Homo sapiens: one gene and its partners. The protein of the gene in region 7 purifies or fractionates together with the protein of the main gene of each other region. This does not show direct contact. Each region holds a gene or a part of one and is shown on either strand. Other genes may lie near its edges. The genes, in order: HERC3, PDZD8, SLC25A51, RHBDD1, LEMD2, ABCB10 and KCNC4.

The links.
Region 1: the proteins of KCNC4 (region 7) and HERC3 purify together in Homo sapiens (affinity purification with mass spectrometry; 2 studies listed by BioGRID and IntAct, with this or other methods). This does not show direct contact.
Region 2: the proteins of KCNC4 (region 7) and PDZD8 purify together in Homo sapiens (affinity purification with mass spectrometry; 2 studies listed by BioGRID and IntAct, with this or other methods). This does not show direct contact.
Region 3: the proteins of KCNC4 (region 7) and SLC25A51 purify together in Homo sapiens (affinity purification with mass spectrometry; 2 studies listed by BioGRID and IntAct, with this or other methods). This does not show direct contact.
Region 4: the proteins of KCNC4 (region 7) and RHBDD1 purify together in Homo sapiens (affinity purification with mass spectrometry; 2 studies listed by BioGRID and IntAct, with this or other methods). This does not show direct contact.
Region 5: the proteins of KCNC4 (region 7) and LEMD2 purify together in Homo sapiens (affinity purification with mass spectrometry; one large-scale study listed by BioGRID and IntAct). This does not show direct contact.
Region 6: the proteins of KCNC4 (region 7) and ABCB10 purify together in Homo sapiens (affinity purification with mass spectrometry; 2 studies listed by BioGRID and IntAct, with this or other methods). This does not show direct contact.

What each region holds. Positions count from the first base shown.
Region 1 is NC_000004.12:88,598,980-88,602,479, reverse strand, and holds part of HERC3 (probable E3 ubiquitin-protein ligase HERC3), read right to left. Parts: intron 1-3,500. UniProt on the Homo sapiens protein: E3 ubiquitin-protein ligase which accepts ubiquitin from an E2 ubiquitin-conjugating enzyme in the form of a thioester and then directly transfers the ubiquitin to targeted substrates.
Region 2 is NC_000010.11:117,288,441-117,291,940, forward strand, and holds part of PDZD8 (PDZ domain-containing protein 8), read right to left. Parts: intron 1,909-3,500; coding exon 1,746-1,908; intron 1-1,745. UniProt on the Homo sapiens protein: Molecular tethering protein that connects endoplasmic reticulum and mitochondria membranes. PDZD8-dependent endoplasmic reticulum-mitochondria membrane tethering is essential for endoplasmic reticulum-mitochondria Ca(2+) transfer.
Region 3 is NC_000009.12:37,894,128-37,897,627, forward strand, and holds part of SLC25A51 (mitochondrial nicotinamide adenine dinucleotide transporter SLC25A51), read right to left. Parts: intron 1-3,500. UniProt on the Homo sapiens protein: Mitochondrial membrane carrier protein that mediates the import of NAD(+) into mitochondria. Mitochondrial NAD(+) is required for glycolysis and mitochondrial respiration.
Region 4 is NC_000002.12:226,996,382-226,999,710, forward strand, and holds the end of RHBDD1 (rhomboid-related protein 4), read left to right. Parts: 3' UTR 1-2,829; downstream 2,830-3,329. UniProt on the Homo sapiens protein: Intramembrane-cleaving serine protease that cleaves single transmembrane or multi-pass membrane proteins in the hydrophobic plane of the membrane, luminal loops and juxtamembrane regions.
Region 5 is NC_000006.12:33,786,331-33,790,275, reverse strand, and holds the start of LEMD2 (LEM domain-containing protein 2), read left to right. Parts: upstream 1-1,145; 5' UTR 1,146-1,159; coding exon 1,160-1,895; intron 1,896-3,333; exon of another isoform or gene 3,334-3,501; coding exon 3,502-3,542; intron 3,543-3,945. UniProt on the Homo sapiens protein: Nuclear lamina-associated inner nuclear membrane protein that is involved in nuclear structure organization, maintenance of nuclear envelope (NE) integrity and NE reformation after mitosis.
Region 6 is NC_000001.11:229,552,208-229,555,707, forward strand, and holds part of ABCB10 (ATP-binding cassette sub-family B member 10, mitochondrial), read right to left. Parts: intron 1-3,500.
Region 7 is NC_000001.11:110,227,314-110,230,813, reverse strand, and holds part of KCNC4 (voltage-gated potassium channel KCNC4), read right to left. Parts: intron 2,282-3,500; coding exon of another isoform or gene 2,115-2,281; exon of another isoform or gene 2,016-2,114; intron 1-2,015. UniProt on the Homo sapiens protein: Voltage-gated potassium channel that opens in response to the voltage difference across the membrane, forming a potassium-selective channel through which potassium ions pass in accordance with their electrochemical gradient.

The DNA of each region.
Region 1 (3,500 bases), on a different chromosome or scaffold from region 7:
GCAGAAGATTGGTCTTAAGGACATTCAGATTACATTTCAGTTTCCAAACATACTTTTTTTTTTTTTTTTTTTTTTTTGGAGACCAAGTCTCGCTCTGTCTCCCAGGCTGGAGTGCAGTGGCGCAATCTCAGCTCACTGCAACCTACGCCTCACAGGTTCAAGTAATTCTCCTGCCTCAGTCTCTCAAGTAGCTGGGATTACAGGCGTGTGCCACCACACCCCACTATTTTTTTGGTATTTTAGTAGAGACAGGGTTTCGCCATGTTGGGCAGGCTGGTCTTGAACTCCTGACCTCAAGTAATTAGCCCGCCTTGGCCTCCCAAAGTGCTTGGATCACAGGTGTGAGCCACGGAGCCCAGCCGGTTTCCAAATATACATTTTAATTATAATTCTGAATATCCTTTTCTTTTTTTTTTTTTTTTTTGAGACGGAGTCTCGCTCTGTCGCCCAGGCTGGAGTGCAGTGGCGGGATCTCGGCTCACTGCAAGCTCCGCCTCCCGGGTTCACGCCATTCTCCTGCCTCAGCCTCCCAAGTAGCTGGGACTACAGGCGCCCGCCACTACGCCCGGCTAATTTTTTGTATTTTTAGTAGAGACGGGGTTTCACCGTTTTAGCCGGGATGGTCTCGATCTCCTGACCTCGTGATCCGCCCGCCTCGGCCTCCCAAAGTGCTGGGATTACAGGCGTAAGCCACCGCGCCCGGCCCCTGAATATCCTTTTCTAATCATACTTCTTAAACATGCTAGTCTCTCCATATTAAGAATCACTGTTCTAGGTCCTACAGGTCAAAATATCAGGATTTCAAGACAAGATTGCAGACTTCAAAGGTGTCTTCCCTAATCTTTTCATTGGTACATTCATTTCATCCTAATGAAAAGAGGATGGATTCTAACAGAAATGGTGAAGACTTACTTTGAATTATAATACTAGGCGAACACATCAAAGCTGAATATATCAGCCAATCTACAGGAGAGAACTGTCAACATATGAAGGAGACAGCTAATTGGCTCTTCTATGCAAAGTCAGCTTTTAAAATGACAAACTCTTTTCTCCCAAGATAAAAGCATGCCCAAATGGCTACAAATTAAAGATTACAACACAGAGGAAGCTCGTACTTTCAACCTCTCTTGACAACAATTACAGTACTTTGGATTTAACTCAATGGCCTTAATTGGTATATACCAATTTTAAAACTGCCTTATTGTAATCCTGAGGTATGCTTTGAACTCTTGAGGCTTTCAGGAAAGGCATGAAAAGGCCCAAAATAAAATATAAAACTGAATCTCAATTTGCTGTCTTACACAGAAAGTTCTGCTTCTTCCCAAGATTTTTATTCCTTGTCTAGACTCTACACTAAAAAAGTATTAAGATTAAATGTTATTCTTTGAATTAACTACAAATATTGTGGAGAGGGAAGTAGAAATAAAATGAAAAACTGGCAGGGTAGTGGTGGTGGTGGTTGGTGGTCTAATGATACACTAATAGACCAGCAAGCTCACATAATCTAGAAATAATTTATTTTTCCCAACTTGCTCAATTGCTATTATCCACATTAATGGATTTTTTCGTTTTTAGTATTTCATAAATTTGTCTTATCTCTCCTACCTTCTAGTGTTCTTAGGTGCAAGAAGGTTGTGATGTGCCTTACAGAGAAAAAAATGTGTATTAGGTAAGTTTCTTTCATGCATGAGTTATAGTGTTGGCTGTGAGTTCAATGTTAATGAATCAACAAGCGGGTACATCCAAAATATGGAACAGGAAATCTGCTGATCTGTATGTGAGGCCTCCCCTGGAGAGAGCTAAAGTAATATCCAGAGTACATAATGAAGCTATAGATACAATGGAAAAGCAATTAAATCTGTGGATTCATGAGATGACAACCCATAAAAAATAAAAATCACAGTGGATAGCACTGATGTGAGGCTGAAAGCCAAAAACACTGTCACATTACACAGGGTCAAGAAAATGTTAAACCCTTCTCAACTAGTGTTTTATTACCAAGAAATATTGTGTATATTAGTAAGAAATATATATTAAATAGGCTGTCTAGACAGAAACACACATAAAAAAAGGTTATGCGTCAGCTGGCTGATAAAAATCTCTTGACCACAGCCTACAAGAACCTAATCCTGTATTTCCTCAGAAACAATGGCTCTGTATTCACTAATATGGTATTCACCATGACTTTACAGAACCTAACTATATACAGAGTATAACAAGTCCCTTCTTTGTTTACTTAAGCTTATTTATTTATGCTTGTTTGAATCAGGTTTCTTTCACTTGCAATAAAAAGAAACTCCTGACTGATAATATTAATAATGACATTATTAATAATAACAGCAGATAAGACCTGATTTGAGCTTACTCTGAGTCTGGTACTTTTCTATGTGCTTCACAGATGTTGGCTCATTTCATCTTCTATGAGACAGGTACTGCCATTATCTCTAATTTACAGATGAAGAAAGTGAAACTAACAAAAAAAAGATGAAGTAAAGGAAAAGAAAGAGACACTATGCTGTGCTGTATAGTAAGGAGCTTAGAAAGTAGATAACCAAAAGGCCAGACTTCCCAATGTGTCTGCACCACTCTCCAGAGAAAACAGGGACCCTGATCAGTCAACCTGGCTATCTGACCCGCTAAGTAATTCTTTCCTAAAAGTGGATGGGTGGATCAGATTCCATAACAGTTGTCACTAAATTCACCCAACCAATTGCCTTGCTTAGCAAGCAACCTTAAATAACTTGGTTTCTAGGGCAGATTCTACTACAGGGATAGAATACTGTGACCAGGTAACCAAAGCATCTCAGTCTTATTAGGATTTCTAATTCTCATTATTAATTTGGCGTCCTGGGTCTATCAGCTTTTTTTGTAGTTTATCTGGCACGAGTCAGTCCTTGAGAGTCATCTGAGTTCTGGGTGCTTTGGCCAAGCACAATCCTGTGTAAACAGCCTGAAGTATGGCCTCATCCCTGACTGACTAGTAAAAACAATTTATGAAAAAAGATAATAAAAAGGACTATTGTTCAAGAAAACTTCAAAAATTCTTCCAACTGAGTTACAGTAATGGAATCTTCAATTGGTCAAATAAAAACTGCCCACCAAGAGAATTAAATAGCAACCACAAAAAAGATGTGTATCTGTAAATAAACTATCAATCCTAACTATAAATACGGCCTAGGTCATCACAATGCTCTGCCGGAACTAAAGAAAAAAGCAACTAAAATCATCTAGCTTTCAGGAGAGAAGTTCAACACATTGGAGAGAAGCCAGCCATTAGCACAGCTTTCACTTCAAAGTACACTCCAGTTGGACCCCTAAATCTTGTAGCTGCTGATGTCCATGACTTTAAAGGTCTAGTTTCAGCAACGGTCTGCATCGCTGGGCATTTTGATCTCCAAGGTCCTTACACCCATTTTTCCTCATTCACTCTCTTGCTTGCTCCTAGAAGAGCAGAATCTTTTATTTTCCTTCAAAATACACAATTATGAAATTCGCTGCAA
Region 2 (3,500 bases), on a different chromosome or scaffold from region 7:
ATGTTCCAAGGTTTTTCTTTTTTTTAAAACAATGAATGTGTATTGTATCTGCCCTTCATCTTAATACATATTATTATTATTATTTGAGATGGAGTTTCGCTCTTGTTGCCCAGGCTGGAGTGCAATGGTATGATCTCAGCTCACTGCAACCTCTGCCTCCCAGGTTCAAGCAATTCTCCTGCCTCAGCCTCCTGAGTAGCTGGGATTACAGGCGCCTGCCACCATGCCCAGCTAATTTTCATATTTTCAGTAGAGATGGGTTTCACCATGTTGGCCAGGCTGGTCTCGAACTCCTGACCTCAGGTGATCCACCCGCCTCGGCCTCCCAAAGTGCTGGGATTACAGGCATGAGCCACTGAGCCCGGCCTGTTGTTATTGTAATTAACAAATGTTAGATGTCAAGGGATGACTTTTGCTTTTTCACTCTGTATACATTTATATCGCTTAGGTTAATTAATTTATTTTTGATAATAGGTATTTACTACTTGTGTAATTGAAACACAACCCCCAAAAAAGACCGAAAAAATTAATTTTATCCTGTAGCTAAAACCAAAATATTAAATGATATTAATATAATGAATGATGTCTATTTTATGCCTCCCTAAGTGTTTATGCATAAGCATCATCATTTGGGAGGAGTCTGTGAGAAATGAAGAATCTTGGGCCTCACTACAGGTCTCCTGATTCAGAATGCACATTTTAACATCAGGTCTGGGTGACTGGCATACATGGGAAAGTCTGAGAAGCACTGCTTATGCCATGATCAGAGATTCCCATGTGAAAATATTGACTTAATTGGGCTCCCAGATATGCAACTAAATAATTTTCATTATTTTATTGTCAAGGTGGATTTGAATCAAAGGCAGAGTTTCTTTGACATGTAACCAAGGACAACTGCACCTTGATTTGGGAACTGTTCTAACTTATTTATTGTCTAAGCTGTGAAAGAAAATATCACATTGCCCTTTTCAGATCAACTGTGACCAACCATATGTTCAAGAAATCTCTCAACAAGCCTAGAATAGATGGGACAGGTACTACAAAGGTTGAAAAGGCTTGGACTTTCCCCTCACTGCTGTGCACAGTGAGTCCTACTGCTTAGACATTTATATACAAGCAAATAACCTGCTATCTTCAGAGAGTTTTTACTGTTAACAATCCAAGTGATAGGAAGGCATGTAAGTGACACATTTTTCCACCAGTGATTTGGGCTGAATTCTGAGCAACAACATACTAACAAATGGCTGGCCATTTAGATGACACAGGATCACAGGACAGTTCAGATGTGCCCTCCTGGAAAAGGAATGTTGGTTCTTCTGCTCATCATCTAGTGCTAAGTGATGGGGGCAGTAGTGCTAATACTACCAATTTTAGGTTCAGAGTAGCAATGGTGGTAGTCGTACAGAAAGATAACCTGTTTATTTGCCCTTACTTTCACATTCAAGAAAAAATAAATAGAGTAGTAGAAGGTGGGAAGGGAAGGATTAGAGTGGTTATATAAAAGTGGTCTAAACAAAGTATTTTAAAGATTTATACACTAGAACTAAAATGGCATGTATGTTTTAAATGTATTTTGAAGGCCTCCTTTGAATTTTTATTTATAATAAAGTTTATTACTTTATTTCCATTATAAAAGTGACATATGCATATTATAGAAATAAGGAAAAAGGAAGAAAGGAAAAACCTCACACCTACTTTGTAGTTTATCTGTAAAGGTAAAGTATAATGCATATTAGCATAATTACCTCCAATGGCGATAAGTCGATCTCCCCGCTGAAGATCTGCAATTGCAGCAGGCGAGTTTGGAGCCACAGTTTCAATGATGACGTGCCCAGCATACCCATCAGTTGACTGGACAAGACGAAGTGTAAGTCCAACACTTTGTAAATTTCCTTTTATTAATTCAACCTTTGATAAAGGGGAAAAAAATGAAAACTGATTCAATGGATTCCTAGTAATAGAGGAAAAAAACAGTAACAGACTGTTATGTGCAGAGAGCACCATGGCTGATGCTGACTTTTCTATCATGGCAAATAAAGGAAGGAGAAAATCTTTACTGTAACAATATAAATTAACTATCCTTAGGCTACACATTTAAATCATCAAAAAAATTAAACACTTTATCTTCAATGTGTTTTATTATTACTCCTTGCTCCATGCTCATTGTAGAAAATTGGGAAATAAACAGAAAGGCAAAATAAAAAGAAAACCATTCCTAATTATACAATCTAGAACTATTCTATATATTTTCTAATATATATTTAACACAAAATTGAGATTTGTCTCAATAATACTGAGACATAGTAGTCAATACAATTATAATCATGAATATAATTCTGAATCTTGCTTTTTTCAAATATAATGAAAATGATCTATGTCATTCATAATATGTGCTTTGGAAACTCCATTTTGTATGGTGTATCCTTTTTTTTTTTTTTTTTTTTTTTGAGACAGGGTCTCACTCTGTCACCTAGGCTGGAATGCAGTGGCACAATCCTGGCTCACTGCAACCTCCACCTCCCAGGCGCAAGTGATTCTCTCACCTCAGCCTCCCAAGCAGCTGGGACTACAGGCGTGCACCACTACGCCTGGCAAGTTTTTGTATTTTTTTGTGTAGAGATCGGGTTTCACCACTGTTGCCCAGGCTGGTCTCAAACTTCTGGGCTCAAGTGATCCGCCCACCTCAGCCTCCCAAAGTGCTAGGATTAAAGGCGTGAGCCATCCCACCCGGCCAGTGTATTCTTCAAGTTTCTTTTTTGGGAATAGGCAAAGGAAAAGAGTTTACATTTATACTTTATTAAGAGTTATCGGCCGGGCACAGTGGTTCACGCCTGTAATCCCAGCACTTGGGAGGCCGAGGTGGGCGGATCAGGAGGTCAGGAGATTAAGACAATCCTGGCTAACACGGTGAAACCCCGTCTCTACTAAAAATACAAAAAATTAGCCAGGCGTGGTGGCAGTGCCTGTAGTCCCAGCTACTCGGGAGCCTGAGGCAGGAGAATGGCATGAACCCGGGAGGCAGAGGTTGAAGTGAGCTGAGATCACACCACTGCACTCCAGCCCGGGCAACAAAGCGAGACTCCACCTCAGAAAAAAAAAAAGAGTTATCATGTGGTGGGGATGATGGGGATGGTGGTGCACACCTGTAATCGCAGCTACTAAGGAGGGCTGAGGTGGGAGGACCATTTGAGCCCAGGAGTTCAAGACCAACCTGGGCAACATGGTGAGACCCCATCTTTATTTAAAAAAAAAAAGTTACATTGTTAATGAGATGTCCTATTCTAACCCATCAAGATCATTTTGTTTTCTAAATAAACCTGCCATCCAATTTTCAGGAATGTGGATACTAGATTAACATCATCTGTGAATTAACAACAACATCATCATGCTATGTGTCCTCATTCAAACAACTGATTTAAAAAAAAAAAACAGGCAGAGTGCTACATCCCAGCTGTTGACAAGGATTCAATTAGTGTTTATGGCGCTCAATTACAAATCAG
Region 3 (3,500 bases), on a different chromosome or scaffold from region 7:
TTTATTCTACCTCCTATTTATGGTTGCTGTTTTTTTTTATGGTTTTGTATTATTAAGGTTTGGAAAACTCTGTGGACAATTCAGCTTGCCAAGTGTGTGAGTGGGTATACAAAAGATATACATTTTTAATTCCAAGACCTTCCAGAGAGTGTCTAGAGGAAAGGTCTAATTAAACCTGCCCCCACTCACCTTTTTTTTTAACTTTTTTTTTTTTTTTGAGGCAGAGTCTTGCTTTGTTGCCCAGGCTGGAATGCAGTGGTGCGATCTCGGCTCACTGCAACCTCCACCTCCTGGGTTCAACTGATTCTCCTGCCTCAGCCTCCCGAGTAGCTGGGATTACAGGTGCCCGCCACCATGCCTGGCTAATTTTTCTATTTTTGTAGAGATGGGTTATCAACTTGTTGGCCAGGCTGGTCTTGAACTCCTGGGCTCAAGTGATCTGTCCGCCTTGGCCTCCCAAAGTGCAGGGATTACAGGTATGAGCCACTGGCCTGGCCTTTTACAAAAAATTTTAAGTTCTGAGGTACGTGTGCAGGTTTGTTATGTAAACTTGTGCCATGGGGTTTGTTGTACAGATTATTTCGCCACCCAGGTATTAAGCCTAGTACCCATTAGTTATCTTTCCTGATCCTCTCCCTCCTCCCACCCTCCACCCTCCTATGGGCCCCAGTGTGTGTTGTTCCTCTCTATGTGTCCATGAGTTCACATCATTTAGCTTCCACTTGTAAGTGAGAACATGTGGTATTTGGTTTTCTGTTCCTGAGTTAGTATGCTAAGAATAATGGCTTCCAGCTCCATCCATGTTCCAGCAAAGGGCACAATCTTGCTCTTTTTATGCCTGCATAGTATTCCATGGTGTATGTGTACCACGTCTTCTTTATCCCGTGTACTACTGATGGGCATTTAGGTTGATTCCATGTCTTTGCTACTGTGAATAGTGCTGCAGTGAACATGGCTGTGCATGTGTCCTTATAGTAGAACTATTCCTTTGGGTATTGTTTTTTTCTATTTCGCCTTTAAACAATGCAGCAATGGGCAACCTTGTACTTATACCATGTGAATTGTTTTGCCATTAAAAACTTTTTTTTTTTTGAGACAAGGTCTCATTCTGTTGCCCAGGCTACGATGCAGTGGCACAGTCATGGTTTACTGTAACCTCGAACTCCTAGGTTCAAATGACCCTCCTGCCTCAGCCTCCTGAGTAGCTGGAACTACAGGTATCCACCACCACATTCGGCTTTTTTTTTTTTTTTGTAGAGAAGGGGTCTTGTTATGTTAGCCAGGCTGGTCTCCAACCCCTAGCCTCAAGCGATCCTAATGCCTCAGCTTCCCAAAGTGCTGGGATTGTAAGGAGTGAGCCACCTTGCCTGCCATTTAAAATTTTTGAATATGATTCCCCATCTTTCATTTCTATTGACCACTTCTTTACTATACATTTTCATATATGTTGCCCATTTTTCTGCTGGCACTTTGGTTGTCTTACTGATTTGTAAAGTATCTTTTAGATATGAAGCAAATGAATCTATTTTAGTCAAATTGTGGCAAATAATTTTTCCATGTCTATATCATTTTTATACACTGAAGTTCTTAATTTGAATATTAAATATATCTCAACTTCTAGATTTCATGTTCTCCTAAGGTCTTCATTACTCCAAAATTATTAACAAGTAATCCAGGCTTCCTTCCACAACTTTTTTTTTTTTTTTGAGAGAGTCTCACTCTATCATCTAGGATAGAGCGCAGAGGCATGATCTCGGCTCACTGCAACCTCTGCCTTCCTGGTTCAAGTGATTCTCCTGCCTCAGCCTCCCAAGTAGCTGGGATGATAGGTGTGTGCTGCCATGCCCTGCTAATTTTTATATTTTTAGTAAAGACAAGGTTTTGCCACATTGGCCAGGCTGGTCTCAAACTCCTGGCCTCAAGTGACCTGCCTGCCTCGGCTTCCCAAAGTGCTCGGATTACAGGCCCTTCCATAATTTTTATGGTGAATTATCACGTATACTGTAATATCTCTGGAATATCAGTTTAAGAAGTGAGGCAAAGATAACAGACTGCCAACATCACTGATGACTGAACTTTGTTTCCATCAGTTGCAGCATAATCTAAATACCCACGGGCGTTTGCGTTTATTTCTGCACTCCATTCTTTTCCACAAAGAGCCTGGTATTTCTTCTCTAGTACTAACCTGTTTTAACCTATTGCAGCATCAAAATATAGTTCATCATCTAGTAGGGCTTCCCCCTCCAAAGATAATTATTACAGTTTTTCTAGCCCTCTCACTTTTCTCAGGTAAACTTCGGTGTACTCTTCCCCAAAATCCTGTTGGTGTTTTATGGTGGAAGATGTATCCACAGAATGAGGCATATATATTTAAAATAGGCTGGGTGGCCGGGCACAGTGGCTCACGCCGGTAGTCCCAGTATTTTGGGAGGCCGAGGTGGGTGGATCACTTGAAGTCAGGAGTTCGAGACCAGTCTGGCCAACATGGCGAAACTCCATCTCCACTAAAAATACAAAAATTAGCCAGGCGTGGTGGTGTGCACCTGTTGTCCCACCTACTCTGAAGGCTGAGGCAGGAGAATCACTTGAACCCAGGAGGCGGAGGTTGCAGTGAGCCGAGATTGCACCACTGCACTCCAGCCTGGGTGACAAGTGCGAAGCTCTGTCTCAATAAATAAATATTTAAGGTTCAGAACGGTATTAACTTTGAATTTTTAGTGGTATTTAGATGGAAAGAGTGAAAATTAAAGAGCATATGTATGTCCGGTACCTATGTCAGGGGAGATAAGACGTGCAAATTAATTAGACTATAGGGAGATAAGTGCAATCATAGAAGGTATCAAGGCCCCGTACAGCAGGAGGTCATTAACTAGCTGTCCAGAGGGAATGACAGACAGGACATGACAAGTCTATCTTAATTTTAAATACTGATCATCTTTTCAAAATTGAATCTTAACTTTACAAGAACTTGGTATCTTCCTATTTACTTATAACTTTTTGCAAACCTTAAAGCATTAAAATTTTCTTCACATAGATATTATTTCTTACATCTATGTATTTCACCTTTTTGGTTACTATTATATTTTAAATTTTTAAATTTTTTTTCTTTTTGAGATGGGGTTTCACTATGTTGCCCAGCCTGGTCTTCAACTTCTGGGCTCAAGTGATCCTCCTGCCTCAGCCTCCCAAAGTGCTGAGATTACAGACATGAGCCACTTTGCCCTGCCTGATTATTATTATTCATAGGCTATTTACTTCCATCAGTTTTCTAACTAGTTTTCGTTTGCATAAGAAAACAACTAACAATTCTTGGGTATTAAGGTTAGAACCAGCTAACTTACTGAATTCTTACTATGTCTCAGTTTTTTGGTGAACGTTTTAGTTTCCACCATGTAAAAGATCACTTGCAAAAAATTTTGCCTTCTCTTTTATAATATGTGTAATTCTTTCTTCTTATTGAACTGATAAATACTTCCTGAACAAAATTAAATTATAATAAA
Region 4 (3,329 bases), on a different chromosome or scaffold from region 7:
ATTGGCCATTGTACCAGCCACTTGTCCTAGCCAAATGTCCAAAACACGCCCTTGGGCCCCGCCACGTTACAATCCACAGATTGTCTGTCTGAGTCGTTTAAGGCATTTCCTGGTGCTTGTGTTCCATGAATAAAAGGACAAAGTCAGAAGATCACTGATGTCTTACTGTCAACAGAGATATTTTAAAAGAGAGAAGCAGGAAAAGATCTTCCTTTTTTGATCTACAACTTATATAGTTTTCTGATTATGCACATAATAGATATGCCTTCCAGATGCATAAGGCAAACATCTGGAAAGAAATATACCCAAATCTTAGCAGGGGTTATCTTTGGGAGTGGAGTACATGGGATTTTGCTTTCTTCATTTTTATAATTTTATATTACTGTCTTGGAAGATGTGTTTATGTGTGTGTGTTACTTTTACAATCAGGAAAACATATTTAATAACATATAGTCAAGAAAACAGACTTAAAAATAAATACTATGTGTCCATTGAGAAAATTCACAATATAAACAGAAATACAAATAAATACATACACAATTTTAAAGTCACCTGTAGCCCTACCCTTAGAGGTACCCAGGGTTAACATTTTGGTGGTATTGTCTTATCAATTTTTCCGTTGATACATTCAGCAAATTTGGAGCACATTGACCATGGAGTTTTGTGTCCAAATCCAATCTGAATTTACCTGGAAGAGGCCTTGACACCTGCATGGAAATGAGCTAAGAAAACCACTGGAGCCTTGGGAGCTCTTTGGCCTCCTGGCTGGCCCAGTAATATCTGAGCTCCTTTGGTTAATTTATAACTGATATAAAACTACATCTTCTTTATAATATAAATTGTACCTGTGAGTCTAGAAGCTTTAAATGTGTTTAAATTAAAATATTCAAGCTAAATGTTACTGCTCTCTCCCAAATTCTGTAAGTTTGACTCCCGTTACCCCAATTAGAAGTAACTTCTTTGTTTCATGCCACTTTTATAGCATTTGGTAATTCTGCTATAACACATCTTGCCCCTATTATTAACTGTGCACAGCTACACAAAGGTGTGCCTTCTACGTGGGAACATGGATTGTGAATGACTCTGTAATGAGGCCTGAGTCTTAGTTATCTTTCCACTCACTCCCCGTCTCCCCTTTCCAACCCCAAAGGCTCACGATAGGGGCTCACTAAATGTCAGTGTTTCACCAAAGTATTTTTTCCATTGTATTAAGAGTCCAGTCACTGTATATGGAAGTATTTTATTTTTTATTTTTTTATATCACTTGAGTCCACTAGTAGTACTTCCTTGCTCTGTTTGACTTGTCAGATACAAAGACACGGGATTAGATTTTGGGTGGTAAAATTGTGATACGCATGGCTGTTGATGGAGTGGAACATCTTAGTGATGTGAGAAAGGTCATTTTAGTTATAAATGTAAACCAATTACTTTAGCACAACAATAAAGATGTTCTGGAAATTATTATAATTATTTTAGTTAATGGACTTGCCTGTAACAAGTGCTTATGTTTGGAATGTCCATTTTATTTTATTTTCCTCTACAATAAGGAATCCCTAAAGTTATGCCAACAAACTGGAATTGGATTGAGAAAGACAAAAGCAAGTGAGCAAGTGTATTAGACTAATTATCTCTAGTAGGGAATAAGCACTTAGAGCTAATTTTTTAATTTGGTTTATTTATTAGTAGCTCCCTGATTGTCTGTTAAGCCCCTGGTTCCCACAGTTTGGTGTGGTCAGTCAACTTAAGCGACCTTTTAATGCAGAATCTTTACTTGGTTCTGAAGAGGAGGCAGTAGTTAAAATTGCTTCCTCTTAATGACTCTGAATGTATTGCCTGTGATTCCAAAGTTGTACATAATTGTTCAGACCTCCTCCATCCTTTTAAATTGCCTGCTGCAGTAAATAACTAGTTTGAGTAGAACTAGATCCTGTCTATCTATTTGGCACATGTTCTGCTGCCTGGGGAGTAAGCAAGCTAAAGGGATGAGAAAGACCACCTCCCCCTACCCTGGAAATTGCACTGCAAGGCAGGGCGAGAATGGGGTAGCTGGCAGACCTGGCCTCCTTGTTCCCAGTCTTAGTTTTTCTTGAGAGATTCAGTATTCAGTAAAGAATAGCATTCAATTAGTCAAAAAATATATATATAACTTCTTCCTTTCCCTTCCCATGAATCATTGCAGTCATTCCCTAAGTTTCTTCTCTTTTTTTTTCATGGCTGCTAGTATTTTATTTTAGAATCACAGACTCTCAGCTTAGAGAGTCACAGTATCTCAATTATTTGCTCTGTTCAATACTTAACAATACCTCCTCACTCAATTCTACATAACTCCAGCTTAGTCTTCCAAAATTCACTTTCATGATGCCACTCAGCATCTCAAATACCTTTCATTGGCTCTCTGCTGCCAAAGGATAAAGGTCAAAGTCATTAGCCTCAACAGTGGGCTTCAACCAGCCTTTGGACCTCAGCCCCATTTATCCATCACAGAGGCTGGTAACTAGTCTCACTGCTCAGGCTGTGAGTGTTCCTGATCTTGTGACATTCTGTGCTGTGCTTTTACATGGAACAGCTCTTTCCTCTCTCTTGGCCCATTCAGATCCTCCTCATCCAGCCCCCATCTGAATCCTGTAACAGACACAACCACATCTACACAGTTTCCACATACCACTTGGAATTGCTGGTTATGCTGCAATGAGAGAATGTCTTTGTCTTTAAATTGTAAGCTTCATGAGGGCAGGGACCATCTGTTTCTCTGTCTCTCCTCACAGTGCCTTGAGCAGTACGTTGTCTGGAATGTCAGAACCAATAAATACTTGTGGATTGAAACAAAAAGAGAAGCTCATTTATACTGTCACCAGTGGCGCACATAAACACTAGTGCCTGGTGCTTATTGATATCATTGTAGGTCTTTTTTTTTTCCCTTGAATCAATCACATCAAGGAAAGAATGATGGAAAGCATTTGCTGGTAGAAATAGAGACTTCAGGGCCTTTGTCAGCCTGAAGACATGTCCCACTGCATCGAATGCTGTGACCTGGTACACAAAGCTCAAGATTCCCACACGACCAAGAAGTGTCACCAAGGAGTCCCTGTGAGTAGTACCGAATCTTGCCATGTGCTTTTTACAGGTCTGCGTTGGATGTGTTTGTGCTAACATTTTTTCCTTCTGTGGTATTTAGGGGCAGAGAGAGAATGATCTTAACATCTCGATCAGATGATAGATGAATTGGCAGATTTAGATATGTGATTTATACTTTAGAAAAACTAAAATGTTGCTAATATAATAGAAATCATTAAATTTGGTCATAATAGGTATTGCTGCTTGGGAAGAGA
Region 5 (3,945 bases), on a different chromosome or scaffold from region 7:
ATAAATGTTTGGGAATGGGAGTTGAGGGATGTGGAAGGAAGATTATAAACTGGTTCTATTTCCAGTTGCCACATTCCCTTGCTTCCCTTAGGGGTTTCCTGCTAAGAGCCTTCATGTAACCAAATCACCTGCCCTGTGGGAGGCTCTACACAGCACTGACACTGCAAAGATGTGGGTTAAGTATAAACACGCATGAACGTGTGCCAGGCACTGTCCCAAGCACCTTAGCCAAACTACCTCTTCTAATCCTCACAGCAACTCTATTGAGGTTTACTGGCAAATAGGCTAACAATGTTAATTGAATATGATCACACATCTAATAGTTGTGAGTAGGGATTTGAAATCGAACTGTCTGGCTCCAAAGCCCACAACCTAAACCACCAGTGAGGCTGCAAGACCGTGTATCTCTGGAGTCTTCTCTCTCCCATGTCTCCTTGTAAAAATCCCATTACGCAGACACAGGCCCTCCGCAGAGAAGCCTCAACTGCCCATTCGAACCCAAGGGCATTTTGCTCCTCTGCCTCCACCATGGATGCTGCGTCTCCTCCAGGCTGGCGCTCCTTGGGGGCCAGTGTCTGTCCTAAGGCAGGGATCGCACCTACTTGGTGCTCAGTGTCGCCCAGTTAACAAGCCCGAAGTCGGGACAGGGTCTTGGAGCATGCCTGGAGTGTACTCTAAGACCCAAATAAAACCGGATCACACATCAGTCCCCAAGCCCAGAGAGGCAAATCATCCTGTCTCTCCATTCGTGGCAGTGGCTTCGTTCACCATTAAGCAATTCATCTATTAAATCAACGCTGACTTTACTGAACGCTTACCACCTGCCAGAGGCAGAGCTAGGGTTGGAGGACTCAGAGATTAATACCGCTTGATCTAACAAACAAAGGGAAGTGGGAGAGCGGAGAGAGAGAGAAAAACAAAACAAAACAAAACAAAACAAAAAATTTAATCCCCCTTGGACCTTCCCACCATGGCGGCTCTAAGAGCCACGTCAGACCGCCTCATCATGGCCGACCAAAGGCCAAGTGCAGACCTTCCCAACATGGCGACCGACCTTCCCATCATGGCGCGTGGCCCCGCCCGCTCCGCCGCGCCTGCGGGAGGGAGCAGTTCCGGGTGCGGTGCGCGCCAGGGGCGGGCGGGGGGCGGCGTCCTGGCCATGGCCGGCCTGTCGGACCTGGAACTGCGGCGGGAGCTGCAGGCCCTGGGCTTCCAGCCAGGACCCATCACCGACACCACCCGGGATGTCTACCGCAACAAGCTGCGCCGCCTGCGGGGCGAGGCCCGGCTGCGCGACGAGGAGCGGCTGCGGGAGGAGGCCCGGCCGCGGGGCGAGGAGCGGTTACGGGAAGAGGCCCGGTTACGCGAGGATGCGCCGCTGCGCGCCCGGCCCGCCGCGGCCTCTCCGCGGGCGGAGCCCTGGCTCTCCCAGCCGGCCTCGGGCTCGGCCTACGCGACCCCTGGGGCCTACGGTGATATCCGGCCCTCCGCGGCTTCCTGGGTAGGGAGCCGCGGCCTCGCCTATCCTGCCCGCCCGGCGCAACTCAGGCGCCGCGCCTCGGTCCGGGGCAGCTCCGAGGAGGACGAGGACGCCCGGACGCCCGACAGGGCCACGCAGGGCCCGGGTCTCGCGGCCCGCCGCTGGTGGGCAGCGTCTCCCGCCCCGGCGCGGCTGCCTTCCTCCCTCCTCGGTCCCGACCCGCGCCCGGGCCTGCGGGCGACTCGAGCGGGCCCTGCTGGCGCGGCGAGGGCCCGGCCTGAGGTGGGGCGCCGGCTGGAGCGCTGGCTCTCTCGGCTTCTGCTCTGGGCCAGCCTAGGGCTACTGCTCGTCTTCCTGGGCATCCTTTGGGTGAAGATGGGCAAGCCCTCAGCGCCGCAGGAGGCGGAGGACAACAGTACGTCCTGGGCCGGCGCAGGGGAGGGCCCTGGGCGCGCGTGTGTCCGCCGGAGGACCCCCCGTTCCTGTCGGCGCCAGGCCGCGCACTTCCGGCCTTGTCAGCTGCCTCTGACTGTCTTCTCATTTCCAGGCCTGCCTTCTTCCAGCTGTGGGAAGAGAGGGCCAAGGCTCCTGCATCTGCAATAATTTCTGCCTTCACTTTCTCCTGTTCTCCTTTTCTGCCCCAGCCCTCCCTTCTAACGTCTCCCTTTCAATCACAAGCTGTAGTCACTGCTCCTCCAACCTCTGGTTTTCTCCCTGGAGAGGAAGCCACACCCCCCTCTAACAGATTCACCCCATCCGTTTGGGTTCTTCCCTTTTGACCTCTGGCTTACACATTTAGTGCCTGTTTGAAGGCACTCCAGATTTCAGTGGCCCACAGATAGGATCTGGTTGGGGGTCCCACCTTTGTAGCACCAAAAAGTCCACTCTCCACTTCTTTGAATCACAGGGCCGCCGCTTTGTCAACAGGAGAATCTACCAGCCTTGCTTGCCAGACAGGTTAAACTGATCGCAACTGGAGGCCCTTATCATTGCTTGTAGCACCCTCATGGAGTGTGTTAAGAGAGAGACTACGACTCAAGGATGCTCACAGCCATCCTTCTGGCCACATTTAAGTTACATGGTTAGATATGCCAATGAGAGGTCTGCAGGATACAGTATGTATCCGGAATAGCTGAGGATTGTGTGTTTTCTGAAAGGAAACATAGAGATCATTTCATTATACATTTAGGTATAAAGGGCCACTGTAGTTCACCAACTTTTAATACTCTTTACAAAGCACGAATGTGACTAATACTGTTCCCAGCTTCCAGCCAAGGCCACATCCTTTCATGCCTAGCAGGAACTGCCAAAATACAGGAAAAAGCTAAAGTATGTCTTAGCTGGTGTGGCAGATGGATGTTTGGGAGTGTACAAGTCTGTGGGCAAGGGTATTAACAGACTCGTGTGCAAACACCCAAATGATTTCCCCACTATGAGAGCATTTATCAACTATGTGAATAGTTTGTCGACCTGCTAGAGAAATTAAGGAGACCTGGGAGTGTCATGGTACTATAACTACACTGGTGATGTCAAACAGTATCACACTGGTACTCACTGCTGAGATGCTTTAAGACAACAGCGCTAGAATGTATGCTGGTATTTACCTGGACTTCCCCTCCCATTACGGTGTTAATCTCTGTTTAACATATCATTGTTTACAAAACTCCTATATTTTGTTTTGTTTGGGCCTAACTCCCTGAGTTAAGCAGGGAAGGCCCATTTGATCCCGTTTTACAGACGAGGAGACAGAGGTTCAGAGTGGTTGAGTTGCCCAAGAAACTTGAGCTAATCATTTTCAGCTGGGACAAGGACCCAGCTATCGTAATTCCTAATCCAGGATTTGGATACCCTTACATTTTGCTGTCTGCATTTTAAAAGTGCCTTCCTTAGATGACATCTTTCTAATCCCCACCCTTGGCTTGGTAATGCTTTACTCCCTCCAAATGTTGTGAGTAGTCTCTTTTTGTATTCCTTTCTCAACCCACACTTAATTTCCTCTGTGTTTCTTTTCTTGGTCTCAGTGAAGTTATTGCCAGTGGACTGTGAGAGAAAAACAGATGAGGTGAGTTTGAGTTTCTCTGGTTTTTATTATTCTTCCTGAGGATATTAGCCTCCATCAGGAGGTAAACTTCCCCAGAAAAAGAATAGGATCATTTTCAGGGAGTGCTTCCTGTAATGTACCAGAGTCACATTGTGTTCTGTGATGTTCTTGTCAGGCTCAATTGTGGCAGTGAAGGAATACTTGAAATAGAATTGACCTCCCAAAATCCAACCCTGGGCTTGTTATGGACACTTTCCCATCAAATGTAGCATCGGGGACTTTGATCTGCCTGAGTCAATCTAGGGGGATGCAGTAGGTTGTTGTTGAAGGACCCTCAAGCTCCCTGGCACTGGGAGGAAGGGCCGGCGTTTCTAAGCATCAGGAGGCCAAGTTCTCAATTCCACATTCTCTGTCTCCAGTGGTG
Region 6 (3,500 bases), about 120 Mb from region 7:
TTTTGGCTTTTAGTTAACTGGATTCTTGTTAATCAAGATCTGACTACATATCACTGTCTTCTGATATTAATGAATACTTTAGACTTGCTCCATAAACATCATTTCAGATTCCACCACAAGCCCTGGACACAACTGAGCATACTGCAATTCTGAAATTCTCCCACACCTTTTCTCCATAGTTAAGTCTCTTGCTTGCCCCCACCCTTGCCTGATGCGGCCCCAGCAACTTCTCCCATTATCTATTTCTTGACAGATACCTTCAAGTATCTTTGTTACCTCATTCTACTGAATTGCAGCAAAGATGGAAACAAATATCCTTCAAAAGAAAGGGGAAGGAAAATCTGAATTGCAGATTGCTGGACAACAGCGCTGGATAGAAGAGGTTGGGGGTGGTTGGAGGAAGCTGTACACTGTGCCTACCACCTGCCCACTGCTGAACAGGGCACCCATCTGGTTATATCAGGCAGGTACAGCAATCCCCACTGTCATTCAAGGACTCAAAGGCAGCACTTCAGAGTCCTCACCATTATCTGAAGGATCTGGCATCCATCATCTTAAATCCTCCCTTTCACCCTCATCTTATCCTCGTTTTTCAGAGAGGAATCTCGAACACAGAGAGAGGGAGCCTACGCAAGGTCTCCCAATTTACACATCACAGAACCACATTCTGCGACAAAGCCTGTCTTTGGCATCTTCCCACATCCCAAGCAGAGGAAGAGGAAGCACAGGCCTCACCTTGGAATCAGGGAAGGGAGCAGAAAGCCTGGCAGGATGGAGCAGGGGCAGAGACCTCATGGGTGCACAGGAAGGAGAACTGAGAAATGAAATGAAGCCTCTAGATTATAGAACAGAAGGATTTTGTGGCAAGGTCGGCCTAAAAGGGCTTTACACTGGGGAATGATCCAGCCAGATTTGCTTTTTTTTTTTGAGATAGAGTTTCCCTCTTGTTGCCCAGTGCAATGGCGCAATCTCAGCTCACTGCAACCTCCACCTCCCAGGTTCAAGCGATTCTCCCGCCTCAGCCTCCCGAGTGGCTGGGATTACAGGCATGCGCCACTATGCCTGGCTAATTTTGTATTTTTAGTAGAGATGAGGTTTCTCCATGTTGGTCAGGCTGGTCTTGAACTGCCGACCTCAGGTGATCCGCCCGCCTCAGCCTCCCAAAGTACTGGGATTACAGGCGTGAGCCACCGCACCCAGCCAGATTTGCATTTTTAAATGATCCACTCTGGCTACAGAGCGAAAGGAGCAGCGGACAGAGCACTGTTCTAGTGCCCTAGGTGAGAAGCAAACTTAGGGCGAAGTAGGCTGGGGACAGAGGGATAAAGGGCAGAGTATAGGACTACAGATATTTTTAAGAACTAGGACGTGATGACTGGTTGGATGTGAGCATTTTTCCTCTCTGAAAAATGAGGATAAGATGAGGGTTAAAGGGAGGATTTAGGATGAGGAATGCCTAACCTAGGAGGGCCGTTTTGAGGTTGAGTTGGTCAGCATTGGGTCGGAACCCTGACGAACTCAACCTCAGAACCGGCCCTCCTAGGTTAGGCATTCGTTATCTTAAGTTCTCCTTTTAAGCTCTGCCATCTAGCTGTTTGACCTTGCATAAGTCACTCCATCTCTCTGTGCCCAGTTTCCTCATTTGTAAAATGGCAATAGAAACAATCCCTCCCTCACAGAATTATGAGTAAACTACACACATATTCAAAGCATCTGGTACAATGCCCAGGGCTGAGTACACAAGAAATATTAACTATTATCTTTATTACTACCATTATAAGAACAACCCATGTCTCTGGCCAAGGCCAAGAGGTTCGCACTGCAGTCTCTCTCACTGAACCAAGAGACAGAAGAGGAAAGATGCTTTGCGGAGAAAGGTAACTTTGGTTTTTAGACATGTTTGGTTTGCTGGAGTCTGGGACACATTTCCACGGATGCAGGTGGGTGTGATGGAGAACACAGGAGTTGAGGGTGTGGGGGAGATGGAGGCTGAGTGAAGAGACTCGGCATCTGCGCTGGGTAGAGAATGAGTGAGGACATGAGCGGCTGACAGATGAGAAGGGAGTAGAGGAAGAAGCCAGGGACTCCAGGTTCTGGAAATCTGGAGAAGAAAGATCTGAGCCCCCATGTGTCTGGTGCAAGATCAGACTGTCTCTGTCCATGCTATTAGCATGCTCTAGAGTTAGGAGTATCCCAAAGACAAAATTAAAATAAAACAGTTAGGGGTACCTGTCCCATGAACCACAGGAGGGTTCGCCATGGACTCTAACAGACATACGATGGGAGCCACCTAGGTAATTTAAACTTCTCTAGTTGCCACATTATAAAAAGGAATACGTAAAATTAATTTTAATAACATTTTACTTGACCCAATATATCCAAAATATTATCCACACATGATCAACATAAAAAATTAGTAAGATATTTTACATTTTTTCTCTACTGTCCTTCTGGAATCTGATGTGACAGCACAGCTACAGAATGCTCAGTTTCGCTGAAACAATGTATTTCTGTAGCACACGCACATCCCTGGCTTTCGGGGGCAGTTCCGATTTCAAAGGTTCATCCATCCCAGCCCCCACAGGGCACTGTCCCTGCGGGATCTCCATCCTCACTGGGCTTCAGGAAGTAGCTACTCTGGCCTCCTTGCCCACCATACCCACTGCTTTTGTCACTATATTCACTGTGGTCACTCACGGCCCATCTTCATAAAATGCAACTACAAACTCAGCAAAAGCTGCCAGCAGGCTTCAGGTTCTCAGAGCAGTCCTGCCCTCAAACCACACACCAGCCCCTTATCAGTAACTGCAGTGAGAGGAGCCCTCCTGAGTCCTCCACACAGGCACCAACTGAACATGCCCCAGCGGAGGGGATACATGTGTGCAGTCCACAGTTTAATGAAGGCATGCTGCCCACCCCGCCGAAGCCCCCCACACAAAAAACCTCCAGGAGGCAGCTTTGCCCTAATCTCACAGTACTGTAGGGGCCCACATTTGCTCCTAAAACCCTGCCCCTAACTCACTCAGGTCAGAGCCTCATCTATCTGCCAGGCACAGCCAGACGGTTCTGATGAAGTGTCGCTTATCCCATCAATCCACACCCTGCTCCTCCTCAAGCACCTGCATCTTTTAAGAGTCCTTCTGGCCAAAGTGATACGATGGAGAATTATCAGTGAAAAGGGACCTTACATCTGTATGAAGACAGCTGCGAATTCCTCCCCAAAGGGGCGGCTTAGGCCTTCCTTTAGAAGAGGAATGTAACACAGTTATGCTAAAGCTGCTTTCAGCACACGTCTGTACATATTTCATGGTAGACTGTGTTTTTAAAGTTTCTGATGCAATCAAAGTTTTCTGTTCACACAGTTTAGGAGGCATACCCAGCAAAATGCTGAGACAGATGGAGGTATTATTATTAAAATATAAAGCTGCATTTTTGAAAAAAGATTTTTGTATTTTTCTAAAAATTAACAAATTAACATTGGAATTCCTTTTCAGCTCAGC
Region 7 (3,500 bases):
CCCTGGGCAGGCCCAGAGGTGCTGAGAGGTTGTAAGGGCAGACAGTCTACTCAGCCCTCCTGCTATCTGGGTTCTATCTCTCCCAGATGAAGCCAGAGAGCCAGGAGGGATGTGTGGGAGCCAGCTCCCCGAGGCATTAGGGCTCCAGCCTGGCAATGCTGCATCTTGTCGCCCAGGGACATCTGTGCCCACCGTAGGGGTGCCATGAGCCAGACCCAGCCCTGTGGGAGGGAAGAGAGGGAAGGAGGCGGTGGGTGCCGTGGAAACTTGGGCTCCTGACAACTTGAGGGCTGCCACAGAAATAGCGGCCTCGGTTCCCTGAACCAGAAAGGCAAGTCAGAGGAGAAAACAGTGGTGGCATCCCTGTGAACCTGCACACCCGGCTCGTTGTGTCCCTGTCAGAGCCCAGGCCCTCCATGCCAGGGAGTCCTCTCGCTGTTGGGGGAGGGGCCCTCGCATCTCCATCCTGTTCCACAGGCTTCCCCATCCCTGTCACTTCAAGGGCCTGCTCCCTCCTGAAGGGCAGTTGCATGGAGGCCCCCACATCCCCTCTTCTCACTTCTTATGGGTCAGGTCACTTCATTCTGAGAGCAAGTGGGAGGCAGGCCCCACAAACCACTGCAGGGTGGGGGTATCCCAGTGCCCACTCTGAACAGACCTTTCCAGAAGGACATTTCTGTGTCTGCCCAAGACTGAGGGAGGTGCCGAGATGGGGACACTCCGGGCACAGGCTTTACACAACACCCCCAACCCCATGCAATAATTTGCTCTGCCCAGTCCGCCTTTTGGGGAGCCTCAGATTTCCCAGCCTCTGCCCAGCCCCGACGCTGCCCTGCCATCCTATCTTTGCTGACCATGGAAGGAGCAGATCTGGACCTTACTTAGTCATTCTCTCCGCAAAATTGCATAATCTGACTCTAAAAATTGCCAGGCGCACGGCTCTGCTGTCAGGTCTAATTCCCATCAGGTGAAAGAGGAAACGTCTTGGCTGAGGCAACCTTGTTCCTCAGGCTGTGGAGGGCCCCCTTCCCGGGAGCGGCAGGAGCAGGTGGGGGCAAGATGGCTTCTGTCCCCACACTTCCCCTCAGCTGCCCCTGCGCAAGGTGTACCCCTGCTCACCCAGTGACTCACAAACCTGTTGTGCTCCTGGGCTCGTTAGGTAAATGAATACACTTAATTATAGAAATTAGATGAGTCTCCGGTTCTGGCAGGAATACAGAGCGCAGAGGCTGGGTGGGAATGGCAGGTGACTCAGAGGCAGGGCTGGGAGTTTGAGGGAGAGGGAGAGGGAAGAAGAACTGTCGCAGAAGCAGAGGAAGCAGCGTGGAGAGCGATGCTGCAGCTCGGGGCGCAGAAGGGACACCAGGTGCCGCCAGTGGGAGTCACCACTGAATCTGGGCAGAGGCTTCCTGAGGGAAGGGCCTCCCTCGCCTAGGCAGCCCGCCCACGGCCTGCACCAAGCCTGAAGCTACAACGCTAGGGACCCCTACCTGCGCCCCAAGCCAGGGATAGAAAACATCAGGCCTCTTCTCCCAGGGCAGCACTGCCCATAGGCACTGCTCTTCCAAGGAGTCAAACCACCTTTACACCAGCAGAGATGCCCGACATAACAGCCTTGTTCCTTGCTGGTCTGGGTGTGGGGTGGACAGACAGACAGACAGACAGGCTGTTCGGCTACTGGTTAAAGGCTATGAGGAATGGAAATACATTCACAGTGATTAAAGATATTAACATAGGCGTGGCTCCCCAACAAGGCTGACTGGCCCCAGGCGCTCTGTGCACACATAAACGCCTGGTGGCTGAGACTGGCCCTGGTGGGACCCCGAGAGGAAGGCAAGGCCGAAAGACAGGTCCGGGGTGTGCACCTACAGCCCAGGAAGAGGCCAATATGGGGAGAAGCTCTGGGATTGCTTTCCCCTTTGCTCTCCGGTTCCAGAGCTGAACCTTTTGGGAAGCTTGGAGCTATGGAGGGCAGGCTCGGGGGCCTAAGTTCTCCTCTGTCCTGACTGCTCCCCCCTGCTCCCTCCTGCTGCCCGCGTGGGCCCTGGGGAGTGAGCGCTGAGGGCATGGAAGGGTGCCTGTTTGTGCGCGTGTGCCCAGAGGGGAAGGTGCAGCTAAGGGGCAGAGTGACCAGGGGGTGGGCCGGTGAGGGGGTGGAAGGGGGTGAGCAGGAACTTTTTCAGAGGGTAGGGCAAGCTGTAACGCGATGCCAGTGGAGACAGCCCCAGGCTGGTTCCAGCTGCTCCAACTATGTTGTTTAGACTCCGGGACTTTCCACAGCCTTGGTGAAGAAAAGGCACATGGGTCAGTGGGCGCAGCTCCACAGGGTCCACGCTCCAGGAGACACTGCAGGGCGGGTGGCCCTGGGCTGGTGTGGAGGGGCCTGGCCCTCCTTGACTCTCCCTGGCCTCAGGTCTCCTGGGCTCCTGAGGACAGACTCCAGGGCCCCACACCCAGCTGACTTTTGTCCTGTCCTGCCCCCAGGTAAGCTTCCCACCAGCTCCTTGATAGCCCAGCTAGACAAAGACCCCACAGCCTCCAGCATCAGCCTTCTTGACTCTAAGAAGCCCTAATTAGCACCTGCCACCATCCTCCCAGGGAACTGACACTCTGATACATGGGCCTGTGTGGAGGAGGCCCAGACCCACTCACTCCTGGTCTTAAGCATAACCTGAGTGTGGAGAAGTGCGGCACGGTACGGCGTGGAGAAAGTTGCCGAGTGTGCATTGGGAGTTTGGCAATGTTAACTGCCACGCTTGCTTAGCAGGGCCTGTTTCCCAGCAACCCACCTGTTCCCTCTCGAAGGTCACTCTAATTGGCTGAGCTACATGCCTGTTGCCAAGAAGCAGTGTGGAGGCATCTTGAAAACAGAGCAGACAGGCCCCACAGGCACCCCAGGGATACTGGATGGTGAGATGCTGGCTCTCCTGCCCCGTGCACGTGCCGGTGAAACTCCTTCCCCAGGTGCAGTCCACTCCCAGTACCTCGTGGTCCCTCCTGACTGGTACCCTCACGGCCTCTTCCACACCTATTTCCACTGAGCCCCTCACAGCCCAGGGAGGAAAGCAGGGATGCGTGGCACTCAGCTCTGTGTGCTCGAGTCCTACACAGGGACCACTCGTTCTAGACTGTCTGCTTAGCACGGTCCAGCCAGAGCAAGGCTTTGGGCCTGAACAAGGACACAGTGGAAGCCACTGCCTGTTTGGGATGGTCGGCGGGAGAGAAGGCCAAATCCAGGCCCAAGGATAGGACACGGGGGTGAACAAAGGAACACAGGCGAGGGTAGAGGTCTGAGCACCCTCCATCTGCTGCCTTTTGCTGGGGTTGCTGGACCACTTCCTTCTAGGCACCAGATCACTATTCCCATTTCTGCCAGTCCACAGAACACATGCCCAACAAAGCTGGACACACACCTTTCAGGGGCTGGTTAGGCTCAGGGTGGCCTGGGGCTTCCATGGGGAGAGTGGTACTGAAAGGTCTGGGAAAGAAACTAGAAGGTG